4 linked regions of the Homo sapiens genome follow. The protein of the gene in region 4 purifies or fractionates together with the protein of the main gene of each other region. This does not show direct contact. Each region holds a gene or a part of one and is shown on either strand. Other genes may lie near its edges. The genes, in order: DRG1, CLPTM1, UFD1 and SLC13A3.

The links.
Region 1: the proteins of SLC13A3 (region 4) and DRG1 purify together in Homo sapiens (affinity purification with mass spectrometry; one large-scale study listed by BioGRID and IntAct). This does not show direct contact.
Region 2: the proteins of SLC13A3 (region 4) and CLPTM1 purify together in Homo sapiens (affinity purification with mass spectrometry; one large-scale study listed by BioGRID and IntAct). This does not show direct contact.
Region 3: the proteins of SLC13A3 (region 4) and UFD1 purify together in Homo sapiens (affinity purification with mass spectrometry; one large-scale study listed by BioGRID and IntAct). This does not show direct contact.

What each region holds. Positions count from the first base shown.
Region 1 is NC_000022.11:31,413,605-31,421,504, forward strand, and holds part of DRG1 (developmentally-regulated GTP-binding protein 1), read left to right. Parts: intron 1-6,651; coding exon 6,652-6,821; intron 6,822-7,900. UniProt on the Homo sapiens protein: Catalyzes the conversion of GTP to GDP through hydrolysis of the gamma-phosphate bond in GTP. Appears to have an intrinsic GTPase activity that is stimulated by ZC3H15/DFRP1 binding likely by increasing the affinity for the potassium ions.
Region 2 is NC_000019.10:44,975,144-44,983,043, forward strand, and holds part of CLPTM1 (putative lipid scramblase CLPTM1), read left to right. Parts: intron 1-2,199; coding exon 2,200-2,317; intron 2,318-7,900. UniProt on the Homo sapiens protein: Involved in GABAergic but not glutamatergic transmission. Binds and traps GABAA receptors in the endoplasmic reticulum (ER).
Region 3 is NC_000022.11:19,466,943-19,474,842, reverse strand, and holds part of UFD1 (ubiquitin recognition factor in ER-associated degradation protein 1), read left to right. Parts: intron 1-3,034; coding exon 3,035-3,156; intron 3,157-6,839; coding exon 6,840-6,970; intron 6,971-7,900. UniProt on the Homo sapiens protein: Essential component of the ubiquitin-dependent proteolytic pathway which degrades ubiquitin fusion proteins.
Region 4 is NC_000020.11:46,557,995-46,565,894, forward strand, and holds part of SLC13A3 (Na(+)/dicarboxylate cotransporter 3), read right to left. Parts: intron 5,558-7,900; coding exon 5,420-5,557; intron 2,205-5,419; coding exon 2,028-2,204; 3' UTR 1-2,027. UniProt on the Homo sapiens protein: High-affinity sodium-dicarboxylate cotransporter that accepts a range of substrates with 4-6 carbon atoms, such as the citric acid cycle intermediates succinate and alpha-ketoglutarate (2-oxoglutarate), as well as other compounds including N-acetyl-L-aspartate.

The sequences.
Region 1 (7,900 bases), on a different chromosome or scaffold from region 4:
GTGGGTTTTTTTTTTTTTTTTTTTTTTTGAGATGGAGTCCCACTCTGTTGCCCAGGCTGGAGTGCAATGGTGCGATCTTGGCTCATGCAATATCTGCCTCCCGGTTTCAAGTCATTATCCTGCCTCAGCCTCCTGAGTAGCTGGGATTACAGGCACCTGCCACCACGCCTGGCTAAGTTTTGTATTTTTAGTAGAGATGGGGTTTCACCACGTTGTCCAGGCTGGTCTTGAACTCCTGACCTCAGGTGATCCACCCACCTTGGCCTCCCAAAGTGCTAGGATTACAGGGGTGAGCCACCGGGCCCTCCCGACACCTGTCTATTCTTAACAAGAACACATATGACTTCCCTGTTGTCAAACCTGATGGCCAATTTATTGTCCACATCTTTCTAAAGAGAATAACACAGTTGATCACTCCATCCTTGGAGTATTTGCTTTACCTGATCTCTGACACCAGTGCCCCTTCCTGGTCTCCTTTGCTTGATCTGCCCCATCATCAGACTCTTTAAATGTGGATTGCCCCAACACCTAATCTTGGAGATTCTTTTTTTCTCTGTCTCTGCTCTGTCTATGCCAAATGAGAGTTATTTCATCTAGTTCTTTGGTTTTAAATGTCTGGATCTATATTCTAATGATTATGAAATGTGTGGCAGTAATTTGCCCTCTGATGAAGTGCATACCAGCTGCCAACATATCTCTGCTTGGATGTCTAATTAGGTGTCTCAAAGTTAACGTGTAAGATTACATTCTTGATCTTAGCTGAGGCGGGAGGATCACTTGAGCTCAGGAGTTTGAGACCAGCCTGGGCAACATAGTGATACCTCATCTCTATTAAAAAATGAAAGTAAATTTAAAAATTAAAAAACAAAAAAATTCTTGATCTCCCATCCTCAACTTGCTCTTCCCTTAGTCTTTTCTATCTCAGTAAAGGCAAATTTATCCTTCAGAACTTTTAGGTCAAATCTTTTTTTCCCTTTCATCCCGCACATCTACTGTGTTGTTATATCCAGCTGGTTTTACCTTTGAAATATATCTAGAGGCCAGCCACTCTTTTTTTCCCCCTTTTTCATCCTTAAGTGAAAAACTTATGTGACTGACATGCTGGCTACTATGCTAAGGAGGAAACTCTACCAAAAGGTTGAGTTAATCATGCTTCTCAGTTCATGGCACATTTTCTTTTTTTTTTTTTTTTAGAGATAGGATCTTGCTCTCTTGCCCAGGCTGGAGTACAGTGGCATGATCACAGCTCACTGCAGCCTCAATTTCCTGGGATCAGGTGATCCTTCCTTCTTAGCCTCTTGAGTAGCTAAGGACTACAGGCATGTACCATCATACCCGCTAATTTTTTACTTTTTGAGAGACAGTCTCACTATGTTGTTCAGGGTGGTCTCGAAAACCCCGGGCTCGAGAGTCTCTCTCTTCTCAGCTTCCCGAGTAGCTGGGACTGCTGGCATGTACGACCATGGCAGGCTGATTGATTTTTACTTTTTTAGGGGTAGAATCTCGATATATTGCCTAGGCAGTGATTGTTGTCTTACTGTTTTTCAAGTATTTCTCTTAAATTCTATGTCTAATATGATATCTACTAGTTACATGTGACTAACATTTAATTACAATTGAATAAAATTTAAAATTTAGTTCCTCAATTATGTAAACCACATTTTATGTGTTTATTAGCTACACTTGACTAGTAACTACTGTATTGCACAGTACAGATGCAGAATATTTTCATTATTACAGAAACTTTTATTGGATACCACTGCTCTCGATATTAATTCCTTGTCATCTTTAGACATTATAAATATCTTCTCCCGTTAATTTTGTCCAAGGTGGTATTTGTTGAATAAAAATCCTTAATTTTGTTAGAATCTACACTTTATTTGTAGCTGGGACCACAGGTGTGTGCCACCACGCCTGGCTAATTTTTTTGTATTTTTAGTAGAAACGGGGTTTCACCATGTTGGCCAGGCTTGTCTAGAACTCCTCACCTCAAGTGATCCGCCTGCCTCGGCCTCCCAAAGTGCTGAGATTACAGGTGTGAGCACCTGGCCTACTCTTTATTTTTTCTTATGGTTTGTGCTTTTAAAGTTTTATTTAAGAAGTCCTTATCTTTCCTTAGGTCTTAGATATAGTCTCCTGTTTTTTCTATACTTTTAGGTCCTTTATTTACCTAGAGACTACTCTTATATCTGATATTAGAAGGGTATCCAATTTTAATTTTCTCTGTATAATGGGTCACTTTCCCCAACACCTTCTTTTTTTTTCCCCTTTGATTCGTAGTGACTGCAAACTCTTCACCTATATTGTCACTTCCTTCATTATGCCTTGTCTCTAACATTATAGCCCCATAACTGGCCTTCTTGCTGCTATCCTACTGCTCTGTAGTATCTTCTCACTACAGCTAGTATGATTGTGTATAAGAAGTCAGATCAGTCCAGGCACGATGGCTCATGACTGTAATCCCAGCACAGAGGCAGGCAGATCACTTGAGGCCAGGAGTTCCAGACTATCCTGGCTAACACGGCAAAACCCGATCTCTACTAAAAATACAAAAATTAGCTACTTGGGAGGCTGAGATGGGAGGATCACTTGAACCTGGGAGGCGGAGGTTGTAGTCAGGTGAGATGACACCACTGCATTCCAGCCTGCGTGACAGAGTGAGACTCTGTCTCAAGAAAGCAAACAAAAAAAAGAAGTCAGATCATGTCATTTGTTGGCTATACCTTCTGATGTTTTCCCATATTATTTGGGATGAGACCCAAAGTCTTAACATAGCTTACAAGCTACGGTAAATGACCTGGCCCCTGGCTGCCTCTCTGACCTCCTTTTCTATCACTTCAGTCACTGGGCTTAAGATATCACTGGCCGTCCGGGTGTGGTGGCTCACAGTCTGTAATTCCAGCACTTTGGGAGGCCAAGGTGGGTGGATCACCTGAGGTCAGGAGTTCAAGACCAGCCTGGCCAACGTGGTGAAACCCCATCTCTACTAAAAATACAAAAATTAGCCAGGCATGGTGGCAGGTACCTGTAATTCCATAGTCTGTAATTCCAGCACTTTGGGAGGCTGAAGCAGGTGCATCACAAGATGAAGAGATCGAGACCATCCTGGCCAACATGGTGAAACCGCGTGTCTATTAAAAATATAAAAATTAGCTGGGCATGGTGGCGTGTGCCTATAGTCCCAGCTACTCAGAAGGCTGAGGCAGGAGAATCGCTTGAATCCAGGCGGCAGAGGTTGTAGTGAGCGGAAATTGCACCATTGCACTCCACCCTGGTGACAGCAAGATTCTGTCTCAAAAAAAAAAAAAAAAATAGCTGGATGTGGTGGTATGCTTCTGTAGTCCCAGCTGTTCGGGAGGCTGAGGTAGGAGGTTCTCTTGAGCCCAGGAGGTCAATCTGCAGTGAGCCATGATCATGCCACTGCACTGCAGCCTGGGCAGCACACAGACACCCTGTCTCAAAAAAAAAAATAATAATAATAATAAGGCCGGGCATGGTGGCTCACACCTGTAATTCCAGCACTTTGGGAGGCCGAGGCGGGTGGATCACCAGGTCAGGAGATCGAGACCAACCTGGCCAAGGTGGTGAAACCCCGTCTCTGCTAAAAATACAAAAATTAGCTGGGTGTGGTGGTGCGCGCCTGTAGTCCCAAGCTGCTCGGGAGGCTGAGGCAGGAGAATCGCTTAAACCTGGGAGGCAGAGGTTGCAGTGAGCCGAGATTGCACCACTGCACTCCAGCCTGGCGACAGAGCAAGACTCTGTGTCAAAAAATAATAATAATAAAAATAAAATCATGGCTGCTTGGTGGCTCATGCCTGTAATTGCAGCACTCTGGGAGGCTGAGGGGGGTGGATCACTTGAGATCAGGAGTTTGAGACCAGTCTGGCTATCATGGTGAAACCCTGTCTGTACTAAAAATACAAAAAGTAGCTGGGCATGGTGATGCATGCCTGTAGTCCCAGCTACTTGGGAGGCTGAGGCAGGAGAATAGCTTGAACCCAGGAGGCGGAGGTTGCAGTGAGCCGAGATCACGCCATTGCACTCCAGCCTGCATGACAGAGCAAGACTCCATCTCAAAAAAATAAAATAAATAAAATAAAATCAGGCTGGGCATGGTGGTACATGCATGTAATCCCAGCACTTTAGGAGGCTGAGGCGAGCGGATCACCTGAGGTTGAAAGTTTGAGACCAGCCTGACTAACATGGAGAAACCCTGTCTCTATTAAAAATGCAAAATTAGCTAGGAGTGGTGGTCCATGCCTGTAATCCCAGCTACTTGGGAGGCTGAGTCAGGAGAATTGCTTGAACCCAGGAGGCAGAGGTTGTGAGCTGAGGTCGCACCAATGCACTCCAGCCTGGGCAACAAGAGTGAAACTCCATCTCAAAAAAAAAAAAAAAGTCTACCACTGAGGCTGGGCATGGTGGCTCACGCCTGTAATCCCAACACTTTGGGAGGCCGAGGTGGGCAGATCATGAGGTCAGGAGTTCAAGACCAGCCTGAACAACATGGTGAAATGCTGTCTCTACTGCATCTCAAAAAAAGAATGAGGGGTCAGGGTCAGGTGCAATGGCTCATACCTGTAATCCCAGCACTTTGGGAGGCTGAGGCAGGAGGATCACTTGAGGCCAGGAGTTCGAGACCAACCTGGGCAACATTGCAAGACCCTGTCTCTACAAAAATAAAAATTAAAAAAAAGAAAAAAATAGCCATGTGACATGGCACACATGTGTAGTCCCGGATATTCAAGGAGACTGAGGCAGGATGATCAGTTGAGCCCAGGAGGTGGAGGTTATAATGAGCTATGATCATGCGACTGCACTCCAGCCTGAGTGACAAAGCGAGACCCTGTCTCTTCAAAAAAGAGAATTTTAAAAAATGAGGAACTAGAAAGTTGATGGAAGCAGAATATTTTTTTTTTTCTGAGATGGCGCTCTGTTGCCCAGGCTGGCTGGAGTGCAGTGGCATGATCTCGGCTCACTGCAACCTCTGCCTCCCTGGTTCAAGTGATTCTCGTGCCTCAGCCTCCTGAGTAGCTGGGATTACAGGTGTCCACTACCATGGCCAGCTAATTATTTATTTATTTATTTATTTTTGTAGATGGATTCTCGCTCTGTTGCCCAGGCTGGAGTGCAGTGGCGCAATCTCAGCTCACTGCAATCTCTGCCTCCCGGGTTTAAGAGATTCTCCTGCCTCAGCCTCCCAAGTAGCTGGGACTACAGGCATGTGCCACCACATCCGGCTAATTTTTTGAATTTTTAGTAGAGATGGGGTTTTACCATGTTGGCCGGGATGGTCTCAATCAGCTCACCTTGTGATCCTCCTGCCTCAGCGTCCCGAACTGCTGGGATTACAGGCGTGAGCCACTGCGCCGGCCAGTTTTTCTATTTTTAGCAGAGACAGGGTTTCACCATGTTGACCAGGCTGGTCTCAAGCTCCTGACCTCAGGTGATCTTCTCGCTTCAGCCTCCCAAAGTGCTGGGATTATAGGTATGAGCTCCCGTGCCCAGCTGGAAGCAGGATTTTTGACAAATGAATTTTAATATAGAAAAAGGCCAGATACTGTGACTCATGCCTGCAGTCTCGGCAGTTTGGGAGACCAAGGCAGGAGGATTGCTTGAGGCCAGGAGTTAAAGGCTACAGTGAGCTATGATCATGCCACTGCACTCCAGTCTAGGCAATAGAGCGAGACTCTGTCTCTGTCAATATAAATATATATTAATAAAAATAAGATATGCAGGCACAAAAGACTACTTTTTTTTTTTTTTATACAGATTGAATCTTACTTTGTTGCACAGGCTGGTCTCAAACTCCTGGCTCCAAGCAATCCTTCTGCCTCAACCTCCCAAAGTGCTAGGATTACAGGCATGAGCCACTGTGCTAGGCCAAAATAATATATTTTATATGATTCCATTTATATGAAATTCTAAAACGTGCAAACTATGGTGGCAGAAAGCAGATCAGTGGTTGGCTGGCAATAGTGGGGAAGATTGAAAGGAGGCACAAAGGAATGCTGTAGGTGATGGAAATATTCCATGTCTTGATTGGTTTGGTGGTTACACAGGTATATACATTTGTTATTGAACTGTGTGCTTTAACATGGATACAATTAAAAAAAAATTGTACCTCAATAAATTTGGTTAAAAATTTGCTAACCAAGGGTGGGCGCAGTGGCTCATGCCTGTAATCCTAGCACTTTGGGAGGCTGAGGTGGGCGGATTGCCTGAGCTCAGGAGTTCGAGACCAGCCCAGGCAACATGGTGAGGAAACCTCGTCTCTACTAAAATACAATTAGCCAGGCATGGTGGCATGTGCCTGTAGTCCCAGCTACTGGGGTGGCTGAGGGAGGAGAATCGCTTGAACCCGGGAGGCAGAGGTTGCAGTAAGCCAAGATTGTGCCACTGCACTCCAGCCTGGGCAACAGAAAATGTGTCAACTCTTGGGCAAATAGGTGCTGATTTCATGGCATACAAAGCAAATTGACTTCTGGTATAAATCTTCTGTAGCTATAAGAACTTCACGTATGCATGTATGTATTACAGAAAAATCCTTTGACACTTAAATGTAGGGGGAAAAAACACCTCTACTTGAGTATTTGGGTTAGTTAAGGCTTTATTGAACTTTCTTGCGTATGTTTTTTTCTTACTCTTCAGTGGCCCGAACCTGTAACTTGATCTTGATTGTTCTGGATGTCCTGAAACCTTTGGGACATAAGAAGATAATTGAAAATGAGCTGGAAGGCTTTGGCATTCGCTTGAACAGCAAACCCCCCAACATTGGCTTTAAGAAGAAGGACAAGGGAGGCATTAATCTCACAGCCACTGTAAGTGGGGAATATGACATGGGGCAGGCTGCTGCAGGAATTGGAATGGGGAGTGGATTGGGGTGCATGGACCCTGACATTGGAAAATTTCCTGGCTTTTCCCTGCACTAATTGAGATAACACAATGACTTTATAATGACTGACAAGAAAAACTTCAAGATTAGGATAGGAGCCAGTCTCAGACTTACCTTTGCTACTTATTTCCTCTTTTGGATTATCTATTGGGAATGATATGGGCGTGTGGACCAATATTATGCTTGCATAAAGTAGATGGCCGCCAATATCTTCTGTTTTCATTCATTTAACACAAATTTATAGAGTGCCTACCACGGGCCAAGCATTATTTTAGGCTCTGGGCAGGAATGGAAGAGGGAATAGTGAAACCCCCTGCTTTTATATTCTAATTGGATAGAATAGAAAACAATGTTAATGAGTAAAATATAATGTATTCGTCAATGATAAATATAAGAACACAAAGTAGGGAAAGGAGATAAGAGTGTTGGTGTGAGGGTTGCAGTTTTAAGAACGTTGGTCAGGGAAGTCTTTACTGAGGTGACATGAAGGTGTGAACCAAGTGGATATCTTGAAGAAGAGCATTTGCTTCATGCCTCAACCTCCTGAGTAGCTGGGATTACAGGTGCCTGCCATCGCACCCAGCTAACTTTTGTATTTTTAGTAGAGACGGGGTTTCACCATGTTGGCCAGGCTGGTCGGTTTCATTCTGTTGCTTAGGCTGGAGTACAGTGGCACAATCATAGTTCACTGTTAGCTCAAAACTCTTGGGCTCAAGTGACCCTCCTGCCTCAGCCTTCTAAGTAGCTAGGGCTAAGTCACATGCCTCCAGGCTTGGCTAATTTTTTTTTTTTTTTTTTTTTTTGGTAGAAACGGAGATTTGCCATGTTGCCCAGGCTGGTCTTGAACTTTTGGCCTCAAGCTGTCTCCTGCTTCGGTCTCCCAAAGTGTTGGGATTACAGGTATGAGCCACCATACCCAGCCATGTTTTTTATTTCCTGAGCTAAAAAAAAAATGAACTCTTATTACTAAAATGGTAGGACTTTTGGTAGAATAGATTTGGAGGG
Region 2 (7,900 bases), on a different chromosome or scaffold from region 4:
GGCTCAAATCCAACCTCCTCCAGGAAGCCCTCCCTGACTCACAGAGCACTCAGGCTTGGTTAAGCACCCTCTCTGGGTTCTCACACCTGCTGGGCTTCCCCATCCCAGCCCATTCTGGGGCCTCATTGGGACTCCTGTATGGGACTGTGAGCCTTGTGATAATAAGGCTGGGGCTGCCTAGATCACTTCCATGTCCCCAGCACTGCCCAACGTGGGGCTGGGTGCAGAATCAGCAAGTATTGAACAAGTAAAAGGGACATCTCTCTTTGGGGCCTTCTTCGGCTGAGTCCAAGACAGCTGCCCTCATTCCTTTCTCCCCAGCAGGCCTTCTCAGCTTTGGGGTGGAGGGCACATTTCTGTTCTATTTCTGTCTGGGTAGCTAGAAGCAGAATGTGGACACAGTCATTCTGGTTTTTTTTTTTGTTTTTTGTTTTTTTTTGAGACAGCGTCTCGCTCTGTCACCCAGTCTGGAGGGCAGTGGCGCAACCTTGGCTCACTGCAACTTCACCTCCCAGGTTCAAGCGATTCTCATGTGCCAGCCTCCTGAGTAGCTGGGACTAAGGCACACATGATCACACCCAGCTAATTTTTTTATTTTTTAGTAGAGACAAGGTTTCACTATGTTGGCCAGGTTGGCCTTGAACTCCTGACCTCAAGTGATCCACCTACCTTGGTCTCCCAAAGTGCTGGGATTACAGGCGTGAGACACCGCGTCCAGCCATCATTCTTTTCTTTTTGAGATGGGGTCTTGCTCTGTTGCCTAGGCTGAAGTGCAGTGGTGCAATTACAGCTCACTGCAGCCTCAACCTCCTGGGCTCAAGCAATCTTTTCACCTCAGCCTCCCAAGTAGCTGGGACAACAGGCATGCACCACCATGCCCAGCTAATTTTTTGTAGAGATGGGGTCTCAACATGTTTCCCAGGCTGGTCTCAAACTCCTCTGCTCAAGCGATCCTCTCACCTCAGCCTCTCAAAGTGCTGGAATTACAGGCATGAACCACCCCACCTGGCTGGACTTTCTGACCTGCACTGAGAGGTGACTCCCACAGAGACCTCAAGCCCAGCCCCCAGGCCTTGCCACGAGATCCAAGGAAGGACCAGGGCCTGGCAGGCCCAGCAGGGGGATCTGCTTCCAAGGGCTTGGATCTAAGTCGAAGCTTCAGGGTGGGGTCCAAGTGGACTTAAAAGGCAGGAGAGCTGGGCACAGTGGCATGTGCCTGTAGGCACAGCTACTCAGGAGGCTGAGGTGGGAGAATGGCCAGAGCCCAGGAGTTTAAGACTGTAGTGTGCCATGATCGCAACTGCAAATAGCCAGTGCACTCCAGCCTGGGCAACACAGGAAGACCCCATCTCTAAAAAAGATAGGGAGAGTGAGGAGAACACAATGTGGCCAACTGAATTCGAGCTCTGCACAAGGATCAGAGAGGTTCAGTGCTCGCCTTTGTCTCCACCCAGTGCCCCTGGACAACTTGCCTCCCTTCTTGAAGCCTCAGTTTCCTCATCTGGATCAAGTGAGAATAGTCCCCCTTCCCTGGGAGGCAAGGAGACTTGATGAGATAATGAGGAAGACTTGGGCAGAGAGGGGCCAGCTGGAGGTAGCAGGGAGTAGCACCCAGGAGCCCACAGACTGGGTTTCCATCTGCGTACTTGCCACACACTATGTGACCCCTTGGCATGAGCCCCGTTTGCCTCATCTGCAAAATGGGGTGGTAACATGACCCATTGCATAAGGTTGACATGTTATATGTGTGTTAACTCGTTAGATTAGGAAGCTGTTGTCTGAAGTGCCCAGGGCAGGGTCTGGCCCATAGTAGGAGCTCCATGTCGGTCAGCTGCTTCTTCCTGTTGAGTGAGCTTAACGAGAGCTCGTTGACTGAGCTGTGTGCCAGTGCTCCAGGTAGTCCCTGCAGTGGTGCCCTCGGGTCAGTGCTGTGGGAACTTCGCATCCTCTAGGTGGGGCCCTGAGGCTCAGAGAGAAGCTGAGCTCACACGGCCATGGCAGGTAGAGCGGGCGTCTGAGTCTGTCTGACTCCAGCATTTACCTCTCTGCCACCCAGCTACATGCCCCACCCTGAGTACTCAGTAAATGGCCAGAGAGTTGAGGGGGAGGAAACTGCTGCAGATGGGTGCCAGGCAGGGCTTTAACGTTTCCCTCACCCCAGTTGCCCAGCCTGCCCACCTGACCTTCCGTCTTTTGCAGAGCGTCCAGCAGAACGGCTCCATCTACATCCACGTTTACTTCACCAAGAGTGGCTTCCACCCAGACCCCCGGCAGAAGGCCCTGTACCGCCGGCTTGCCACAGTCCACATGTCCCGGAGTAAGTCGCTCCCCTGCAGCCAGGACCCACTGTCCAGGAGGCCAGCATCCTGGGAGCCCCCAGGCTAATGTGGCGGACAAATCCCAAGTCCAGGAGGGCAGGCAGGAAGCCTGTGCTCAAAGAGGGTGGGATTGGCAGGGCAGGCTCAAGCCCCACCCAGCCTGAAAGAGCCCTGTGGACACTAAGCAGGGATACCCACGGAGGAAGGGAGACCCACGGAGGCTCAGGGACCAGAGAGAAATTGGCCAGAAAAAGCAGCTGGAGACAGGGACTCTTGGAGAGGAGGAGACGTCCTTCACCAAGGGGGAAGGGCCAGGGTTGACTTTTGCACAGTAGGGGCCTGATAGAAGTAGACACTCAAAAATAATTTGTGGGCTGGGTGCAGTGGTTCATGCCTGTAATCCTAGCACTTTGGGAGACAAGGTGGGCAGATTGCTTGAGCCCAGGAGTTTGAGACCAGCCTGGGAAACATGACAAAACCCTGTCTCTACCAAAAAAGACACAAAAACTAGCTGGGCGTGTGCCTGTAGTCCCAGCTGCTCAGGAGGCTGAGGTGGGAGGATCGCTTGAGCCCAGGAGGTGGAGGTTGCAGTGAGCCAGAATCACACCACTGCACTCCAGCCTGGGTGACAGACCGAGAACCTGTCTCAAAAAGATAGATAGAGGCCGGGCACAGTGGCTCACGCCTGTAATCCCAGGACTTTGGGAGGCCGAGGCGGGTGAATCACAAGGTCAAGAGATAGAGACCATCCTGGCCAACACGGTGAAACCCCGTCTCTACTAAAAATACAAAAATTAGCTGGGTGTAGTAGCATGCTCCTGTAGTCCCAGCTACTTGGGAGGCTGAGGCAGGAGAATCGCTTGAATCCAGGAGGCGGAGGTTGCATTGAGCTGAGATCACGCCATTGCACTCCAGCCTGGTGACACAGCAAGACTCCGTCTCCGTCTCAAAAAAAAAAAAAATAGATAAAATTCAAAGAACAGTGTGGGCAACATAATGAGACTTCGTTGCTACAAAAATTAATAGCCAGGTATGGTGGTGAGCACCTGTGGTTCCAGCTACATGGGAGGCTGAGGTGGGAGGATCGCTTGAACCTGGGAGGTCAAGGATGCAGTGAGCTGTGATTGCACTACAGCTTTCCAGCCTGGGCGACAGAGCAAGTCCACGTCTCTGAAAAAACAATAGTAATAAAAAATAAGACTACCACTTCTACTCCCATGATAACTCATTAATCCATTAAACCACTAATCCATGAATGGGTTAATCAGTTCCTGAGGGGAGGGTCCTCATGACCCAGTCACCTCTTAAAAGCCTCATCTCTCAGTACTGGCACATTGGGGATTAAGTTTCACTGGGAGTGGGGAGTACTAGAGTACATCAGTAGTCCCAGCTACTTGGGAGGCTGAGGTGGGAGAATCAGCATGAGTTTTGGCCAGGACAAACATTCAAACCATAGCATTGTCCGTCCTCTTGTTTTCGAGAAGTTAATAATTGTTGTCATCTTTCTGCTTGCCTGGCTCTTTTTTTTTTTTTTTTTGAGACAGGGTCTCACTATGTCGCCCAGGCTGGAGTGCAGTGGACTATCTCAGCTCACCACAATTTCCACCTCCCAAGTTCAAGCGATTCTCCCACCTTAGCCTCCAAAATAGCTGGGACTACAGGCACACGCCACTACGCCCGGCTAGTTTTTGTATTTTTAGTAGAGACGGGGTTTCGCCATGTTGGCCAGGCTGGTCTCAAACTCCTGACCTCAAGTGATCGTCTGCCTCGGCCTCCCAAAGTGCTGGGATTACAGGTGTGAGCTGCCACACCCAGCCTTGCTTGGTTCTCTGTGAGCTTTTTCCCTGAGTCCTCTGTCTCCTGATGGGCAGCCGTAGAAATCTCTTGCTGTACCTGTTTGAGCGGAGCTGGAGAATGGCTTCCTCAGAAAGCCCCCCATTCTTCTAACGGGAGTTCTGTGTACTCCACCTAGCTTTCACTTTATTGAGGACTATTCCAGACATTCCCTGTGGATTTGGTTAAGATCCATCTGGCTGGTTTTGGGTGGCGCAGCAACAGACAGAATTCTATTTGTATGAGTTAGGTCTTACCTACTTCTTTTAGTACAAAAATATCCTAAAGGATGGTAATTTTTTTTTATCACCTATACTGGATGAAATGAAAAGTTGACTCTATGTGGGTCCCTAGAAATGACTTGGAAAGGTCTTCTGGAGTTACTTGAGCCCCTTTCTGAGTGAGTGTGTCTGAAGAATGTGCTGCGTTGGTATGTCCCACCCGGCTGACGTCCATGTGGTGAGATCTTTGGAGAACCAGGCAGAAGTGGCTTGAGGGGGTGTGACCTACAGGGTTGGTCTCACAGATGTTTCCCTGCAGGGGGATACGTCAGGGGTCTGGGCTAAAATGCCCGATGTTTCAGAGGTCGCTCTGAAGGTGACCCAGGTGGGTGGCTCTTCACCCTATTCTTGTACCCCGTTTGACGATCACCTAATCATCCCGTTGACCCAAATCGATGCCAGTATTTTCTGCAGTTTTGTCTTTGGTGAGTGTGATCCATGTCACTGTGTGGTGAGGTTTATTCACAGTCAGTCTGGTCTGTAAAATAGAACCTGCAGACAGTGAACCTGAAAAGCATACTAGGATCATCCAGGCCTCCCTCCCCAGCCTTGGAGCTGGGACCCTCAAAGCAGGGACATAGAAGGACTTGGAGTGAGCCACCCACAAACTCCAGGGTGAAGGAGAGTGTGAGTTCAGAAAAGCCCCCTTTTGGCTGGTTGTGGTGGCTCATGCCTGGAAACCCAGCACTTTGGGAAGCCAAGGCAAGCAGATCACTTGAGGTCAGGACTTCGAGACCAGCCTGGCCAACATGGTGAAACCCTGTCTCTACTAAAAATACAAAACTTAGCTGGGCATGGTGGCACATGCCTGTAATCCCAGTTACTCGGGAAGCTGAGGTGGGAGAATCTTTTGGACCCCGGAGGCGGAGATTGCAGTGAGCCGAGATCGTGCCACTGTACTCTAGCCTGGGCGACAGAGCAAGACTCCATCTCAAAAAAAAAAAAAAAAAAAGAAAAGAAAAGCCCCTTTTATCCCCAAGAGGCCAATAATCAGTATTCTAGAGCAGCTCCGTCCCATGGAGATAGGATGTGAGCCAGAGAAGGCATTAAAATTTTTCCAATAGAAAAATACTAAAGAGTAAAAAGGTAAAGAGAGGCCAGGCACGGTGGCTCATGCCTGTAGTCCCAGCACTTTGGGAGGCCAAAGTCAGAGGATCGCTTGAGCCCAGGAGTTTGAGGCCAGCCCTGGCAACATAGGGAGACCTCATCTCTACAAAAAAAAATTTTATTTTATTTTATTTATTTTATTTCATTTTATTTATTTATTATTATTTTTTTTTGAGATGAAGTCTTGCTCTGTTGCCCAGGCTGGAGTGCAGTGGTGCAGTCTCGGCTCACTGCAAGCTCTGCCTCCCGGGTTCACGCCATTCTCCTGCCTCAGCCTCCTGAGTAGCTGGGACTACAGGCGCCCGCCACCACGCCCGGCTAATGGTTTTTTTGTATTTTTAGTAGAGACCAGGTTTCACCGTGTTAGCCAGGATGGTCTTGATCTCCTGACCTCGTGATCCACCCGCCTTGGCCTCCCAAAGCACTGGGATTACAGGCATGAGCCAGCGCGCCTGGCCTATTTTATTTTATTTTTTTTTGAGACAGAGTTTCACTCTTGTTGCCCAGGCTGGAGTACAGTGGCATGATCTTGGCTCGCCACAGCCTCCACCTCCCAGGTTCAAGCAATTCTGCCTCAGCCTCCCAAGTAGCTGGGATTACAGTCATGTGTCACCACGCCCAGCTAATTTTGTATTTATAGTAGAGATAGGGTTTCTCCATGTTGGTCAGGCTGGTCTCGAACTCCCGACCTCAGGGGACCCACCTGCCTTGGCCTCCCAAAGTGTTGGGATTACAGGCGTGAGCCAAAAAATTTTTTTAAATTAGCCAGATATGGTGGTGCGCAACCTGTAGTGTCCTCCGACTCAGGAGGCTCAGGTAGAAGGATCATTTGAGTCCAGGAGGTCAAGGCTGCAGTGAACTGTGATCAGGCCACTGCACTTCAGCCTGAGCAACAAAGCGAGACCCTGTCTCAAAAAGAAATATAAATAAAATAATAAAAAGGTAAGGCCAGGGCCGTGATGGCTCACACCTGTAATCCCAGCACTTTGGGAGGCCAAGGCTAGAGGATTGCTTGAGCCTAGGAGTTCGAGACCAGCCTGGGCAACATGGCAAAACCCCCCCTAATAAAAATACAAAAATTAGCCAGGCATGGTGGCACATGCCTGTAATCCCAGCTACTCGGGAGCCTGAGGTAGGAGGATCACCCAAGCCCAGGAGGTTGAGGCTGCAGTGATCACACCACTGCACTCTAGCCTGGATAACAAAAGGAGACCCTGTCTCACAAATAAATAAATAAAAAGGTAAAGAAAAACCATGAGATTAATATCAATAATAGTTTAATTGAGCTCAACATATTCTCGTTTCAACATATGATCAGTATAAAAAGTGAGATATTTTACATTTTTGTTTCCCCTTGTGTCAGTTTTCAGAATCTAGTGTGTGTGACTGGGCACGGTGGCTCACATCTGTAATCCCAGCACTTTGGGAGGTTGAGGCAGGTGGATCACTTGAGGCCAGGAGTTTGAGACCAGCCTGGCCAACATAATGAAACCCCAGCTATACTAAAAATACAAAAATTAGGCGGGCATGGTGGCTAACGCTTGTAATTCCGTCTACTCGGGAGGCTGAGGCAGGAGAATCACTTGAACCCAGAAGGCAGAGGTTGCAGTGAGCTGAAATCGTGCCACTGCACTCTAGTCTGGGCGACAGAGCGAGACTATGTCAAAAAAAAAAAAAAGGGTCTAGCGTGTGTTTTATATCATAGCACTTCTTGGTTTGGACCAGCCATATTTGCAGTGCCCAGTAGCTGCATGTGGCCAGCAACCCTGATACTGGATGGTGCAGCTCTAGAAGATTTTCCTCCAAGAAAGGGGGGCTTTTTCCTCCCCACAGGAGCCAGGTCCATCTGGTCTGGATGCCTCCAAGCTGCAGAATGTGTTCTTTGCCTGAGCCAAAGCCTCTCTCCCCTGTGCCTCCCCCTCCACCAGCCAGCGCTGCCCTCTGGGGCTCTCCCTTCCCTGGACAGTCTCTGTCAGGTGTGGACACGATTGGGGCATGTCCCCCTGGAATTTTCTCCAAGTCAACCCTTGAGTGTTGGTTTCTCCCCCTGGACACAGGAGGAAGATCCCCAATGATTTAATAATCATAGAAATGATGAGGATTGGCCAGGTGGCTCAAGCCTGTAGTCCCAGCAATTTGAGAGGCCGAGGCAGGTGGATCACTTGAGGTTAGAATTTGAGACCAGCCTGGCCAACATGGTTAAACTCCGTCTCTACTAAAAATACAAAAATTGCTGGTCATGGTGGTGGATGCCTGTAATCCCGGCTACTCGGGAGGCTGAGGCAGGAGAATTGCTTGAACCTAGGAGGCAGAGGTTACAGTGAGCTGAAGTCATGCCACTGCTCTCTAGCCTGGGCAACA
Region 3 (7,900 bases), on a different chromosome or scaffold from region 4:
GGTTCCTCCTCTGTGAAGGGGGTTCCCTTTCCCTTCCTGATCACCACCTCCACCCACCCCCCAACTGTTCTCAGTATTCTGTCAGGATTAAGTGAAGGTACAAGTATCAAGTGCTTTGTACCGTGCCAGGGCAGCTGATGCCATTGGCTGGGCTCACTAGATTTTTTTCCTAAAGGAAGAATTGGTCAGCTCACAAGAGGGCGCTGTGAGCAGGTTCCTCATCCCCTCACCAAACATCTTTCCTGAGCTCCAGACCCCCATTTCTTTTCTTTTATTTATTTATTTATTTATTTTTTGAGACAGAGTTTTGCTCTTAGCGCCCAGGCTGGAGTGCAGTGGCGCAATCTTGGCTCACTGCAACCTCTGCCTCCCAGGTTCAAGTGATCCTCCTGCCTCAGCCTCCCGAGTAGCTGGGATTACAGGCACCCGCCACCACGCCCGGCTAATTTTTTGTATTTTTAGTAGAGATGGGGTTCCGCCATGTTGGGCAGGCTGGTCTTGAACTCCTGACCTCAGGTGACCTGCCTGCCTCGGCCTCCCAAAGTTATGGGATTATAGGCGTGAACCACCATGCCCGGCCCAGACCCCCGTTTCTAATCTCCAGTGCACCAATGCATCCTCAGCATGTCAAAAACTGAGCTATTGTCTTCCATCCAGAAGCCACTCCTCTTGCTGGGCTCCTGCCTCTTACCAGGAGTGAGATAGGCCCACAGGGGTTCTAAGAGTGGCCACATTCTTCCTCCCTTTTCTCTGACCCCTTATCCCATGAGAGCAACCTGGAAACCCATGCCCTAGCCCCATACTACACAGGCACAGAAAATCCCTATCATGGACAACCCAATCAAGGATGCAGTCATTGCCTTCCAGACTTAAAGAGTGTTTCTGGTGTGAATTCTTCCTGTGTGAGGCAGGAGACTGGGGTTGGCCAGGAGGACAGGTTCATGCTTGGTTTTGGGGGCCTCTGGTGGCAGCAAGCAGAGAACAGGTGCTGGCTGTGGTGTGACTCACCTCGGGCTCTTTGCCCAGCCTGACTCCAGAGTAGCAACTTGACCTCTCTGAACCTCAATGTCCTCTTCTTTAATTGGGGATATCTACAGTGTCTGTGCATCAGAAGTACTGTAGTGTCTGTGACAACCTAAGCTATCCGATTCCAACCACAAGGTGGAGGTAGCCCCTGAGCCAGCACTGGCTGTGGCTATACCCAGTGGAGGCCTCAGCTCAACCAGTAGGTCAACAGAGCTATGGAGTTCACAGTTCTCACGAAGACCCTGTCATTACAGAGGAGAGAACAGGCTCCCTAAAAAGGTCTTCCTTTCAAGTCATGCTGACCCAGGAGCCAGACACCAGGGGTGACCCTTGGCACAGGTGTCCAGAAGAGACTCAGGGGCTGGGTCATTGAGGTGTAGCTCAGATCAGTGTTGTTCAAATCTTTTAAGTGATGGGAGAAACTCTTTCTGTCTAAATCTTATAGGAAGTCCTCTAATTCATAAAATGAGGTTCTCTGCTTTTTTTGGAGAAAGTGAGGGGGTACAGAGGGACTGGGAGCCCCAGGGCACTGGGAGCCTCTAAGTCACAAAATGCAGTTTGAGAGTCAGTGGACTGAGGGACATTGGAGTCTCTTTCACTTGCAACAATCTCAGACCCTTGGCTGAGCCCAGTCCAGTTTACTGTGGACCAGCTGTATGTCAGCTCCATGGCTGTGCAGCTGAGAGGTGGACCGGGACAGAGGTCCTGGCCCCTTTACTGCCAGTGTGAGAGTCACCCTTGGTGATAGGAGGGAGTGCCCACCCTTACTGTACCTCCATGCTACTCTCAGAGGTTCTCTGTAGCTTCCTGCCCAAGCTTTTAACTTGATTTGCTTTATTAGAATTTTTAGGGAGATCTCAAATGGAATCTGCGTTACTTCCTAACACTAAGTGTGATTTTTATTGGAATATTTGTCTGAACTAACAAGCTAAATTCTGCTTTGATGGTTGAATCCCTGGACTTAAGCCAGCAGCCTTGGTTTGAATCCTGGCATCACCACTTGTGTGCTGTGAGGTCTTGTGTGCTCACCACTTGTGTGCTGTTACTTAACCTGTGGGCCTTAGTTTCCCCATAGATAAAAGGGGATAATGATAGTACCTACCTGACTGTTCTGGGAAGACTGAACAAGGGCCTTACACATGGCAAACACCATCACTACCATCAGTTCCTTCTCGGTCTTCTCCCGGGGGCCCAGTGTCTCCTGGGTTTTCCTGCCTCTTTTTGCCAGCCCTTCCTTTATGTGCCTGTGCACCTCTTGGGTCAGCACGTCACCAGTCCAGCTTACTTGCCTCTGGCCTTGCTTTCAGCCCACACCTCAAGGTCCATCAGAGAGAGGGGGCGTCCTATGTCATGACCCTGCTGAGAGCTCACACTGCCCGCTGGGCCCAGGCCCTAGGTTCTACCCCGTGTGGTGCCCCTCCCCTTCCCAACCACTCGCACACCTGTCCCCAGCCTGTCTTGCCTAATTATCCACCATTTCTGAACTGCCTGGGCTCCTCTTCCCTTCCACGCCTTTGCTCAGGCTGCCACCTCTGCCTGGATTTCCTCCCAGGTCTGCCCGCCCAGTGCCCAGCCTAAAGAACTCGGCCTCTAGGAGCCTAGCCCAGTAGCTCTGCCCCCTCCTGCCAGCTCTTCCCACAGCACCTGCAGCATCTGGTTGTGGTTTTCTTTGTTGGAAGGTTTCTACCTTCAAACTAGAAACCTTTGAAGGTCGGGATTTTGTCCAGGGCATGGTGGGCACTGAAATTATTTATGAATAAATGAATGAACACATCACTTTTTAAAATGTTGACTTCAGAAAATCACAAGTCTATGCCAGTGCTGTGTTACCAAGTTGCCAGGTTCCTCCTTGAGCCGTGCACTGTGCTCTCACAGAGGGGGATTCATCTGCCAGAGGAGTGTGGGGTTGAGGGCAGGATTGTGGGGAGGCTCCTTCTATGGGAAGGCGTGGGCCGAACAGGTGTCCCTTCATAGGAGCTGTGCCTCATAGTCTCTCTCTTATTTTCAGGCCGACTTAACATTACCTATCCCATGCTGTTCAAACTGACCAATAAGAATTCGGACCGCATGACGCATTGTGGCGTGCTGGAGTTTGTGGCTGATGAGGGCATCTGCTACCTCCCACACTGGGTGAGTGGGGCTGCCAGGGTCTCTAGAGAGCAGCCACTTAGGCAGAGACATCTCCTGCACTCGAGAGTCCTGGCCCTGGAGCAGGTGGCCCCGCCTACTCCTCCTGCTCAGCGTCTTAGCCTGAGCCGACCCAGCGAGAGAGAAGGGATCCAGAGCAGTGCACTGTGCCTTATGCGGGCTGGTGGGCTCTGGACGCACCTGTGGGCCACTGTGCTGTGGGAGTGGCCTTTTCTTTGATAGTTGCGCAGCTGAACTGTTCATCTGTGATTTCCTGGGTGAGGCGTTTTTAAAAATAATGGAGCAACAGTATTTTTTAGGTGGTCTAGTAAGTAGGGTGTTTGAGGTTTTTATGCTTTTCCCCTACTTTTAGTAGTCTGTCACAGCATACATGTTTTCAGTTACCTCTGACGTAGTCTCCCAAATCTCTCAACTGAGCTGCCATGGGAGTGACGTCTTTTTCCTTACAAGCAGGCTCTCTTTGGAAAGTTGACTTGAAGGATGTCATTGCAGATCTGGGCTGGGATATCCAGGGCGTGTGAGCCACCAGAGCCTGCCCTCAAGGCTGTACCCCTCAGAGAAGTGAGCAGAACTGTGCCAGTGCTGTAGGGAGGAGCCTGCAGCAGTGAGAGTTCCACACAGGTAGCTGTGGCCCACTTGGCTCCTTCTTCTCCTCACTCCTCTCCCCAGCTCTGGCACATTAGGGAAGTTCACAAAGGGACCTGCTTGTCCTTCTCTTTGTGCTTGGATTACATCAGGCATACTGAGAGACCCCGCAGTGAGCTGTGGGCTGGAAACTCTCAGGAGTGCTTGCTTGGCTGCCACCAGGGAGGTGGTCTGAAGCACAGCCCACCTCTCCTGCTGATGCCCTATCATGGTGGCCGCCAGACGTTCAGAAGGGATGGCCTTAACTAATATTTTCTGAGATTAAATATGAATTGAAATTCTGGCCAGGTACGGTGGCTCACGCCTCTAATCCCAGCACTTCGGAAGGCCAAAGTGGGCAGATCACTTGAGGTCAGGAGTTCGAGACTAGCCTGGCCAACATGGTGAAACCCCGTCTCTACTAAAAATACAAAGACTAGCCGGGTGTGGTGGCACGTGCCTGTAGTCCTAGCTACTTGGGAGACCGAGGCAAGAGAATGGCTTAAACCCAGGAGGCTTAGGTTGCAGTGAGCCGAGATCATGCCATTGCATTCCAGCCTGGGCGACAGAGCGAGACTCCATCTCAAAAAAAAAAAACAACAATAATATGAATCAAAATTCTGAAGGTCTCTTTCCTGCTGTAGCAGGTGACCTTGCCCATGCTGCCATGGTAGTGGCATCCTCTTCAGCCTGGGTCCCAGGGTCCTTCCCAAGGTCTGGGCCTGGCCAGTGTCTCCCCGACAAGAGCCCTGCACTCCCATTGCACCTCCTAGTGCCTGGCCTTCCCATGCTGCCTCCTCACCTCAGCTGACTAGGCCTGCCCAACCTGGCCTGTTGGGGGGCTTTTATGCCTCAAAGCCCAGATTGGCTCACCTGCCCTCCCCAGTATTTGCTGCTCAGCCCCTTGCTATTCTTGTGTTTGTCTGCAGGTGCCCCCAAGGGCCTGAGGCCACATTGTGCTCATCCGGTAGAACACCTGGTCACTGAAGCCACTCTAGGTAGCTGAAGTGTCAGGCAGTGACTACTTCCCCAGTCCCTTCTGTGGCTCACCTATAAGAGGAGGTGGTGATGCTGGGGATACACTGTATCTCGAAGGTTCTCCTTTAACCCATAGACTTGAAGTTTGGGTGGCCTCTTGTCCAAGCTGTTGGACTGCTTTAGACCAGGAAACTAATTGAACCCTTTCTCCCCTGGAAAGCCTCTTTAGGTAGCCTGGAGCTGGTTTGGGGTGTGAAGCCATCAGGCCACCTCTTCCCCTGAGCTGGCCTTCCAGCTCCTGGCATGGGCAGGCGGGTGACAGGTATACCCCATCTGCTGTCTTGGAGGGCATGTGAGCCAGTGCTTTTTCTGGGCTGGCTGGTGGACTCCATCCCACCCATGCTCCCAAGCTTCTTCAGGGCGAGCCAGCCTGGAATAGGTACTGGCCTTTTTCCTTGTAGCCAAGGCTTCGTCTGCTGACCTAGATCCGAGCCCTGGACTAGCCGTTTGTGACATGTGGGTACTCGGCTGCCCGTTGTGCTGTATGCTCTAAAATGCTGCATGGGGAGGGCCAGGCATCAGCTCCTCCTGCCTGCTTAGTGCTCTCAGGCCTCTTCCAGCAGCCCATTTCTCACCTCAAGCCCTAGTCTGACCTCTCTGCCTGTCCTCCTCACATCACCTATGGCAGTGTCCTGCCTCTGGCTGAGGAAGCCACCCCCCATCCCTGGCCAGCCTTCCCTCAGGCTTGCAATTGCAGCCCAGTATCCTTCCCCTCGCTGACAAATTTCCCACAAAAATCTACCCAGGGACAGTGCGCCTGGCCTGCGACTGGCTAACTCTGAGCCTTAGAATACTTCCTGTTAGAACATCACTCCTGGGGATGCCAGACCCCCGTTACCAAAGCCAGTCACCTCTGCATCCTTCTGTGCCTGCCTGTGGCATTTGGTAGAGTGACCACCCTCTATTTCTGCCCTTACTAGCCTGACAAGCAGCTGTCAGCGTGAGTGCATGGGGTCCTCTGCAAGCCTATCCATAGGGCCCACCACTCAGGCTTCACTCATGGCCTAGGCACGGCTTCCCAGGCACAGCCTCGGCCTCAGCATGCCTCTCCCTCCTCATGAGCTCCCTCTCATTTGTGACACAGCCCTCAGCCCCCTTTTCCCTTGGCTGTTAAAGTCACCTTCTCACTGCCACTCCCGATGAAACATTCTTGAAGGGATGTGATACCTGGGATTTGCTTCAGGGCATCTAATGTGGCTTGGGACTGGGTGTGAGGTAGTGCTGATCGATGGACTGAGCCACGACGTGAGCACTGTCCAACTGTCAGGGCTCGGTGCGTGGGAGCTCTCTTCTACGGCTCTTTCTACTGATGTATATGTCTGACACCCCTTTTAAGACGGTTTCAAATAAGACAAGCAAAATTTCATTGCAAGAGACATAGAGCTTCTGACCTGAGTCTGGACTCCCTGCACACCCAGTACTCATGGGCATTGTTTATCTCTTTCCGTCTCACTTCTCAGCCGTCGTCTACCTGGCTGGGTTGTTTAATAGAGACATGTGGAGGCTTTGTCAGATTTTTATAACCTCCTTAGCAGAGACCTCTGGGGTCTGTCACCATCTTGCAGCCTCAGCTGTGGTGGGCCATTCCATTGCCAGGTCAGCCTTGCCTTGTGCTGCTTTTGTCCTACCTCAGGTGCAGCCCTACTTGACGCAGGGCCTTATAATTTGCTTGTGGGACAGCTTGGAAGTACAGTGAGTGACTATTCCAGGAAAATGCTCTGCCCCTGGGAAGCCTGGAGCTAGTGAGTAATCCGGGCAGCCCTGCAGAGATGCGTTCACACTGTGAGCTATACAGCTTCAGTAGCACCCCTTTATTGGCCTTCTTCCTTCCACATCACTTGATTTTTCCCTCCTTCCTGACATAGTATCACGAATTACTTATCTTGGCTCAGGTTCCTCTTCCAAGGACCCAAGTAAGACGGGCCTGCCCAGTGTATAGGGAGCAGTGGTTGTGGAGGCTGCTTCATCTCTAGGAGTCTCATGTAGCCTCTTCTTCCTTTCAGATGATGCAGAACTTACTCTTGGAAGAAGGCGGCCTGGTCCAGGTGGAGAGCGTCAACCTTCAAGTGGCCACCTACTCCAAATTCCAACCTCAGAGCCCTGACTTCCTGGACATCACCAACCCCAAAGCCGTGTATCTTTTTCAAATAAGCGGAGTTCTTCTAGACAAAGGAGAGTGTGCTGGCGGTTGTTAAACATCATGTACTGTATTGAATCTGTGCCTGCTTTGGGGATCACACATTTGTGATTCAAGTTGTGATTTGAGAATAATGGGGTTCAGCTAGCACATCTGCGTGGCCCTGGCCAAGTGCACTGGGTGCTGTCTGGGCCACCTCTGTCACTTTCCAGACACTTCATGGAGACCACAATGAAGCCCTTCTTTCAGTTGGTCTGTGTCACCTGGCACAAAGCCAGGATGCACAGTATGTCCAGTGGAAGGAGGGAGCAGCTTATCTGCCTTCAGCTCCAGCCCCTTCTGTGGCTCCCTAGTACCTCCGCCCAGCTGTGCACTGGCCCGTCAACCTCACTGCATGCCAGCCTGAGAGCTGATTCACTCCAGGCCAATAGGTAGCAATGACTGCAGTTTCTATGTCACCAAGCAGAAAGCAAAGGTATCAGGTTCTAGTGGATTCTTTTTGTTCACCTCTGAACTTAAGCCAGGTGTATGTGTTGACAGCATCAGGAAGTAGGCAGTGCAGGTACGGGACGGTGCTGTGTGCACCAATCAAGATCTCTAGCTCCATGGCCCTGATTTTTCCTGTTACGATCATGGCATAAGAGTGGCCACTCCATTCTACTTCTTTTTTTTTATTTTTTTTTAATGCATACTTGAAAAAAAAAACAAACAGTCAAACAACACAGACAGATAGGAAGTTAAGAAAAGCTGCCTCCTTTCCCAGTAGCGCTCTCTCCGCATGTTTTCTTAGGAGCAAGGCACTGCTGGGTGTGCTCTGGATGCATATGGGCCATGTATATTCTTTGCTGCCTATGTTCTGGACACGATGGCCTTGTTGAGCCTCCTGTCCCACAGGCAGGGGGATGTCCTATGGGAAGAGCTAGTTAA
Region 4 (7,900 bases):
GAACTGGAGTTACAGCAGTAAAAAAAATAACATTTGTATTTTCATAAATTTATATTCTAGAGGGAGAAGAAGATAATAAGAAAATAAGTTATACAGTGTCCTATTAAGGAGAAATTATAGCAGAGTAAGGGGGTGGAGAGTAATGAGGGTGACATTTTAGACAGGAGGTCAGGGAAGCCTCTCAGGGAAGGTGACACCTGAGCAGGGACTTGAATAAAGTGAGTCGGGGAACCAGACATATACTTGGGAGAGAGTGTTCTAGGCAGAGGGAACAGCACATGCGAAGGCCCTGAGGCAGAGTATGTAGCTGGAGAGGGGAGGGAAGAGCAGTAGAAAATCAGAGAGGTCAACTCTGTGGAATCCCCAGCCCAGGAATTTGGGGCTTTGAAGCTCTCTTATGTTCAGAAAGGCAAATCATCTCCAGGTCCAAAGTTGATTAACATTCTTTATTTCACAGTATTTTTGATCAGAAGTCTTAGAAATCATGATTCATCTGGTTACAAATCCCATGAGTTTCTCTTTGAATGAACCTCTTGCTTCCAGTCCCATACAACGCATCTCCCACCAGCCCCAGTGGGTTGTAACTGTGATTCAACACTGAGTGCTCACTTGGAAAGGAGGTGGAGCTCAACTTCCAACTCAGAGGGCCTCTCCCACTGCTCTCAGGGAAATGCCCATGATTCACTTATGCTGTATCAACAACAAGTGCAGCTGGGCGCTGCCTTCCCAGCTGGCCAAGCGCTCCTAGGGGAATCTCCACCCTCAGAGGCTTAGGAAAGGGAAGTGTGACGAGTCAGGGCCCCTGGGCTGGTGTCTTTTCCAATACTGGGCTAATGCTGGGCCATTCCATTCAGCAGACACTTCCTGAGGGCCTGAGCTCTTCACTGGGATGCCAGAATGCTTCTGCTTGGAACAAAGAGGGATTAACCCTTGAAGGCAGACACCACTTCCAGCCTCGGGCTCACGGGGACGTCTCAGTTTTACCCATATGCAGAAGGGGACAATCTTTTGCTTGCCTGAGACATTTTACCCTGGCCTTTTACAAGGCCCCAATTTATCTTTTGACTTTTCTCTCACCCCTGACAAATGGGGCCTTTGATAATTAAACATGCTTACCACTTAAGGTGGGGCATGGAGAGATCAAGGCCACCTGCTGGGACAAGCAGCAACTGACCGCCTTGCAGCCACAGAGGCCTATGGGGGCCACATGTAGGAGAGTCCTGGCTGGAGGGGTCATGAGTCACCCCATGGGAGGGCAGGACCCAGGCCTGGCCTGACCCCAGAATTATGGCCAAACTGACCCAGATGAAACAGGAGAATCCTAAATCTCTTGGGTCGAGATGTCAGCTGCGGTTTCTAGAACTTCCCCTGGTATGCTCAGGAGCCCAGAGAAACAGCAAAGAGGCTTTGCACAGTCTCATGTCCTTGGAAAGCTATCTGTCCCTTTCCCTGTCTCCAAGGATTAAAAAAGAATCTCTGACTGCTGGTTATCGGCAGGGGTAAAACAACTGGTGCAGAATGGGCACCAACTAAGCAAAATCACACACTGGTTGTGAACAGCTGGAACAACTGGGTTGGAACATTGCAGCCCAGGAAAGTGATCTTTAAAGACAAGGTGGTCTCTTCAGTGTAATCGAAAGTAATCACTGGGGGATAATGTTAGCTGTGCCCATGGGAATGAATGGCCTCCTATCCCAACTGTACGAGACAAACACCATGCCAGATTTGCTCACTGTTGATGACACTGGGCTGTCTTGTATCCTAATGATAAAACAGCTAACTGATAAAGGAGCTTATTTCTCAGGCAGCAGATCTGAGAGATACCTGGGCTTTGAACTGCATGAAAGAGAGAGAAAGTATCCTAGATAATGGCTCATGGACTTGAGTGGGCCACTGGAGGTCACCCTTGCTTGCTGCATATTGGATTACAGAAAAGAATTATTTGATTGTTTTGTAGTGTCCTAGCAGCAGGTGATGGTGACAGCCCTTTGAGAGGGTTCAGCCTCAAGGGAGTCCTCCAGGGGGACTCAGAGGGTCCGAAATGTGTCATTGGCCAAGGTGGGTGGCAATGCTGTGACATTGACCGAGTACATATCAGCCCAGTCCGGGAAGGTGCCCAGCTGGAAGATGGTCTGTGCCCAGGTATTCATAGCCAAACTGAGCAGCAGGACACCCATCAGGTTCATCAGGAGGCCTGTCCGCACCTGAAATAGAGCCCAGACAGAGGGAGGGGTCAGCACCTGACCCACCATACAGATGGAAACATTCAGACTCAGAGACAGGAAGTCACTCACCCAAGATCGCACAGCCAGGAAGTGATGGAGCCAGGACACAGACCCAGGTCGGTAAATGCCTGGGACCCTTCAATCTTTACACTACCCTAGGCTGTCACTCAAAGAGCTGCAAGTGTCCCCATTCATTGATGGCCTCTAGGTTCCAGGCACTGTGTGCTACGCAGTTGTCACAGGGTTATGCTGTTTAACCCAGAAAGCAACCTTACAAAGGTCATTCTTATTAATCCCCATTTTATAGAAGAGAAAAATGAGACCTAGAGAAGTTGACTTGTCCAAGGTCACCTAACTTGAAAATAATCTTGTCTGATCACTAAACACCCCCATCCCACACACATATACACACACGCATGCACACACACACGCATGCATGTAGGAACACACATATGTACACATAGGTACACACACACACTTCAGGTCCAGTCCAGTCAGGTAGTCCTAGTCAAGACTACCCTTGTCCATTGGGAAGCATTTTTCTTCTGTCGGTGGAGAATGTGCCCATCTGCTCCCTACCCTGGCTGGCCTCTTGGACCATTCAGTCCACCTTGGGCTGAAAATCCTTGTTTTCCCACCTGGGTCTTCTGGCTGCCCCGCCTTCACATAGCCCAGGCTGAATCACATGGTGAGACAGTTACTTCCTTTCTAATTCTCTTTCTGTCTATTCCTCCCAGAGAAAGTCTCTCTTAGGGGTGTGATAGGAAAATAAATCTTGGGGCCCCCAAATTACTAAGCTAAAGAGAAAAGTCAAACTGGGAACTACTTAGGGCCAACCTGTCTCCCATTCTATTCAGTCATCCCTCTGCTCACTGAGTTGAATGCATATCTGATTGCCTTCTTTGGAAAGGCTCATCAGAGACTCAAAATAATGCAACCATTTGTCTCTTATATACCTATGACCTGGTAGCCCCCTGCCCTCTTTGAGTTGTCCCGCCTTTCCGGACCAAACCAATGTTCATCTTACATATGTTGATTGATGTCTCATGCCTCCCTAAAATGTATAAAATCAAGCTGTGCTCCACCCACCTTGGGTGCATGTCGTCAGGACCTCCTGAAGCTGTGTCACAGGCGTATGTCCTTAACTTAGGCAAAATAAACTTCCTAAATTTACTGAGACCTGTCTCAGATTTTTGGGGTTCACAGGGGCCACCATGGCTTCAGCACTTCTCTGCTCCTGTCAGTTGCCCTTTTAACAAGGAGAGGCCCAGAACCTTCTCCAGGCAGCTGCTATCAGGGAGAGCTTAATTCTTTTGTTTTTGCCGCTTTGCATTTATTTTTAGGTTTACTGGCCATGGCATATATTAATAATACCGGTTTTCCATTGATGGATGCACTGGAAACATTTCTTCTGGAATATTCTTATTCAAGTTTTTTTTTGTTTTTTTTTTTTAATGTCAAGCTGATTTAGTAAAGGTGTTAAATAAATATTACCACGGACGGGTGGGGGACATACTGCGTGTGCTGTCCTGCCTCTCTTCTAAGGGCACAGAGGTGGAAGCCCTGGCACCTTCGGAGGATTAGAGGGAGTCGGGCCGACATGTTGGGGAAACTGGGGGAGGATTGGGTCTCCCTTTGCCAGGGCTCAAAATTCCTGCTGGTCCCATGTTAGCTACTTCATTAACACCTAACTCATTACTCTCAGGAGCGAACCTGCAGGTGGGCCATCCCTGCCCGGGACTGGCTGACCGGGGGTGCCCCTTGTACCCCTCCACATCTCTTGCAAGTCTCTACCTCTTGGGGACTCTCCATTTCTCTGGCTGTCTTTATTCTCCAAATCTATGCTGTTTGCATTGCTGCCCTCTCAGTCTTTTTCTCTAAGTAGCCTCCCTGCTTCCACACTTGTCCCTCCCACCCTAACGATTCACTCCAGCCAGCAGCCAAAATGATCTTCTACAGACAGAAGTGAAATCACATCATTGCCCTGCTTACCGAGGGTCCCCACTGTGGTTTGAATAAGATACCAAGTCTGTCCTGTCCCCGCTGTTCCCTGACCTCGTGTCTCCAACCTCATCCTTCTCCAACTCCACTGCAGCCACCCCAGCCTCCTGGCCCTGAATTTCTGGAGCACTCGCTGCTATTCCTCTCTTCCAGGCCTTTGTACCTGCTGTGCCCTCCATTGGGACTGCTCTTCCCCTTTTTCTCTGTGAGGCTGGCGGCTTCCCATGATCATCAGCTCCCATGTCACCTTCCTGGAGAGGGCTTCCCTGCCACCCCTCTCCCCCGTCCTCTTACACTTCCTCATGTTTTATTTCCTTCTGAGCACCTAGCAATATTGAAATTTTACATAATTTAGGAAAATCTGCTGAACTTGTTCACGTCTGTCTCCACCAATAGAAAGCAGCCTCCTAGGAGGCGGATCGGTGTCTCTCCCACTCTGCAGTGCCCCCAGTGGCTGGAACATAGAATGCACTCAGTAAATAGTGCTGTAATGAACGAACAAATCAATGAGTCTCTGTCTCGTCTCTTCTCTGTTTGCTCTGTGTCTCCCTTTCTGCCTCGCTCTCACTCTCGCTCTCTCTCCCCATGTGTCCTGCAGGGGTCTTGTGCCTGGAGGGCCTGCATCGCGATTGGTTAAGCAGGTCGCCCGTCTTGGCTTTGACAGCTTTGGAAGGGTTATTTGCAAAGCCAGTGGAGAGGGAAAAGGCCGCAGGAGTCAGGAGCGGGAAGGGAGGAGCTGGTTCAGCAGGGACCTTCCGGGGGAGGGAACATATTGCCAATGGCTGGGCCCTGCTGAAAGCTGGTGGGGTCCTCCCACTGCTACAGTCCTCCGCTTCTGTCTCCTTCCCAGCTGGCTGAGCACTGAGGCCCACCCCTGAGTCCTAGGGTGTGTCTGCTGCTTCTCTCCCCCGAAGATTCTGGGCACGAAGTGGGGTCCAGAGGGAAGGGGAAGTTCCTTGCCTCTGGAGCAAATTTTGGAAAGTAGTCACTAAGGCAGTGTTTCCTGAGATTGTCTAAGTGCAGGAATCATCCCAGAGTCTCTGCTAAATGTATGTTCCTGGTCCCACTCAGAAAGATCTATTCAGAGACTGGGGAGTGGGGTCAGCGTGCAGGAGTCCTGCATAGAGGCCTTGCCCGCCCCCTTGCGGCCCACCCACATCCCGGGGCCTCTGCTGGGAAATGCCCAGACTCACCATGTCTTTGACCAGCAAGTGTCCAGAGGCGAAGGCGATGGAGTTGGGGGGCGTTGAGACCGGGAGCATGAAGGCAAAGGAGCAGCCGACTGTGCCCGGAATCATCAGATACAGGGGGTGCACTCTCAGGCGGATGGCCTGGGCCAGGAAAAGGTGGGAGAGACCCGGAGAGAGACCAACGCAGAGCGACCACAGCAAGAGGGAGAGAGAGAGAGAGAGGCAGTTGGAAAGAGGGACACAAAGACGTAGAGACAGAGAGACAAAGACATCCATAGAGATTGGCAGAGTGGCAGAGAACAACAGGGACAAGTGAGAAGAGAGAGTTAGAGAGACAGAGAGAGAAAGGCAGTCAGAAAGACACATGCACAGGCAGAAACAGAGACAAGCAGGTAAGAAGAGAACCAGATCGAGAGAGAGGTGGAGAGAACATTCCCAGGGTTAGTGACATTCAAGGGCCACACTGTGGTTTGATCAGGGATGGGCTGGGGTGGTGTACCTAGAACACTCCTTCTCCAATGTGAGAGTGCAGAAAAGCACTTGGAGGGCTGGTTAAAGCCCACATGGCTGGCCCCACCTCACCCAGAATTGCTGATTCAGCAAGTCTGGGGTGGGATCCAAGAATCTGCATTCCTGACGTGTTCCCCCGGTGCTGCTGGTCTAAGGACTGTACACTGAGAACCAGGGCTTTAAAATACTTCCTCTGCCTGCTCCTTCCCTCAGCCAAACAATCTCAACCCAGAGTTGGCCTCTGGATACCTCTTGTTGGGGGCATCCCTGGATTTCAGTGAGAAAGAGAGCTCATGAGAGCATCTGTTGGCAGCTCTTCCAAATTTCTAAGACTGTGTGTATCAAACCCCCCTATGAGCTGGCCTCAGCTAGTGGGCCACCAGTTTGTCACCTCTCCTGCCTACAATTCATACTGATCACTTTTATGGCGTTTTACTTAAATAGGATATTTTTGGGCCTTCTAGGGAATTTTTGCAACCCAAAGCATATTTATTTTCTCAAAAAGCTCTAAAATCACCCCCTTGCATGTAAAATGTTTTTTGATTTTGATGATAAGCAAAGTTTACAAGAATGTGTCATTTACAAGTGTCTTTTCCAGCAAAAGCTGCCCCTTACAGACCTGGCTGGGTTCTATGCTCCGTCTCCGTCCCCATACCCCCTATAATACTCTCATTTCTCTCAGTGACCAGGTCCCTCTGAGGACTCCCACCCCATACTGCTATAAAATGGTGAGCCACTTTGGAGGGCAATTTCCTCATCTCTAACGACATTTTAAACGTACATGCTCTTTGACCCAGGAATCTCAGTCACAGGAATTTCTCTAGATGTAATCAATGAATGCATAGACAAGGCTCAGGTGACACGTCATTGTTGAGTAACAGCAAAGTCTGGAAATACCTATATTTCCATTGGGCAGAGAGATTGCTTAAATAAACCAACAACTGTCCATTTATAATGGAATATTCTCCCGTCATTGAAAAATAACACAGTGTATATCTGTGTGCTAACACAGATAAATTGATGCATAAAATAAGCAGACAGAAACCAAAGACAAGGTGCTGCAGGTATGTGTGCTGGGGCATCACTGTTTGCATACAAAGCATTTACTTGCATCATTGATTTAATTTTATCAGCGTGGGTTACATTAAGGTAATTACATGGTCTGGTCTTTAATCTGTTTAAATATAAAACTATATTGATAGTTTCCTTTTTAAAACTCCTAGTATAAAAGCTACCTGATCATGTGTATATTGTTCTTTTCATTCTGTCATGGTTTCATTTTGCTATTTGCATTTCTTTTTACAGGAGATTGAATTATAGCTTTCTCTTCCCTTGCTCTCCTTACCTGGTTTTGGGGCCAGGGTTTTGCTAGCTATAAATTGAGTGGCCATGTCTATTTTTCTATGCTGGTGAACAGTTTGGGTGAGTTGGGAACTCTCTGTTCCTTGCAAATCTGCTAGCTCTCACCCAGCAAACCACCTGGGGCTGGTGATTTTGTTTTTGTTTTTGTTTTGAGACAGGATCTGGATCTGGGTCTGTTGCCCAGGCACCTGCCACTAAGCCTGGCTACTTTTTGTATTTTTTGCAGAGATGGGGTCTCACCATGTTGCCCAGGCTAGTCTGAAACTCCTGAGCTCAAGCAATCTGCCTGCTTCAGCCTCCAAAAGTGCTGGGATTACAGGCATGAGTGGCAGAGCCCGGCCTGGGGCTGGTGATTTTTAGCCCAGGAGTCATCAGCTGGGTAGGGGGAAGGATTTGTTCCCCTGACGGGGATATTTGGGAATGCTAGGAGACATTTGGATTGTCATGATTTAGGGAGGCGCCACTTGTCTCTAGTGAGCAGAGCCCAGGGATGCCACTACACACCCTGTAGTGCACGGATCAGCCCCATACAGAGAATGATCCAGCCCCAACTATCAACAGTGTTGAAACCCCTGCTTTAGAGGGAGGCTACTGCTTTGCTTCCATTAGAAT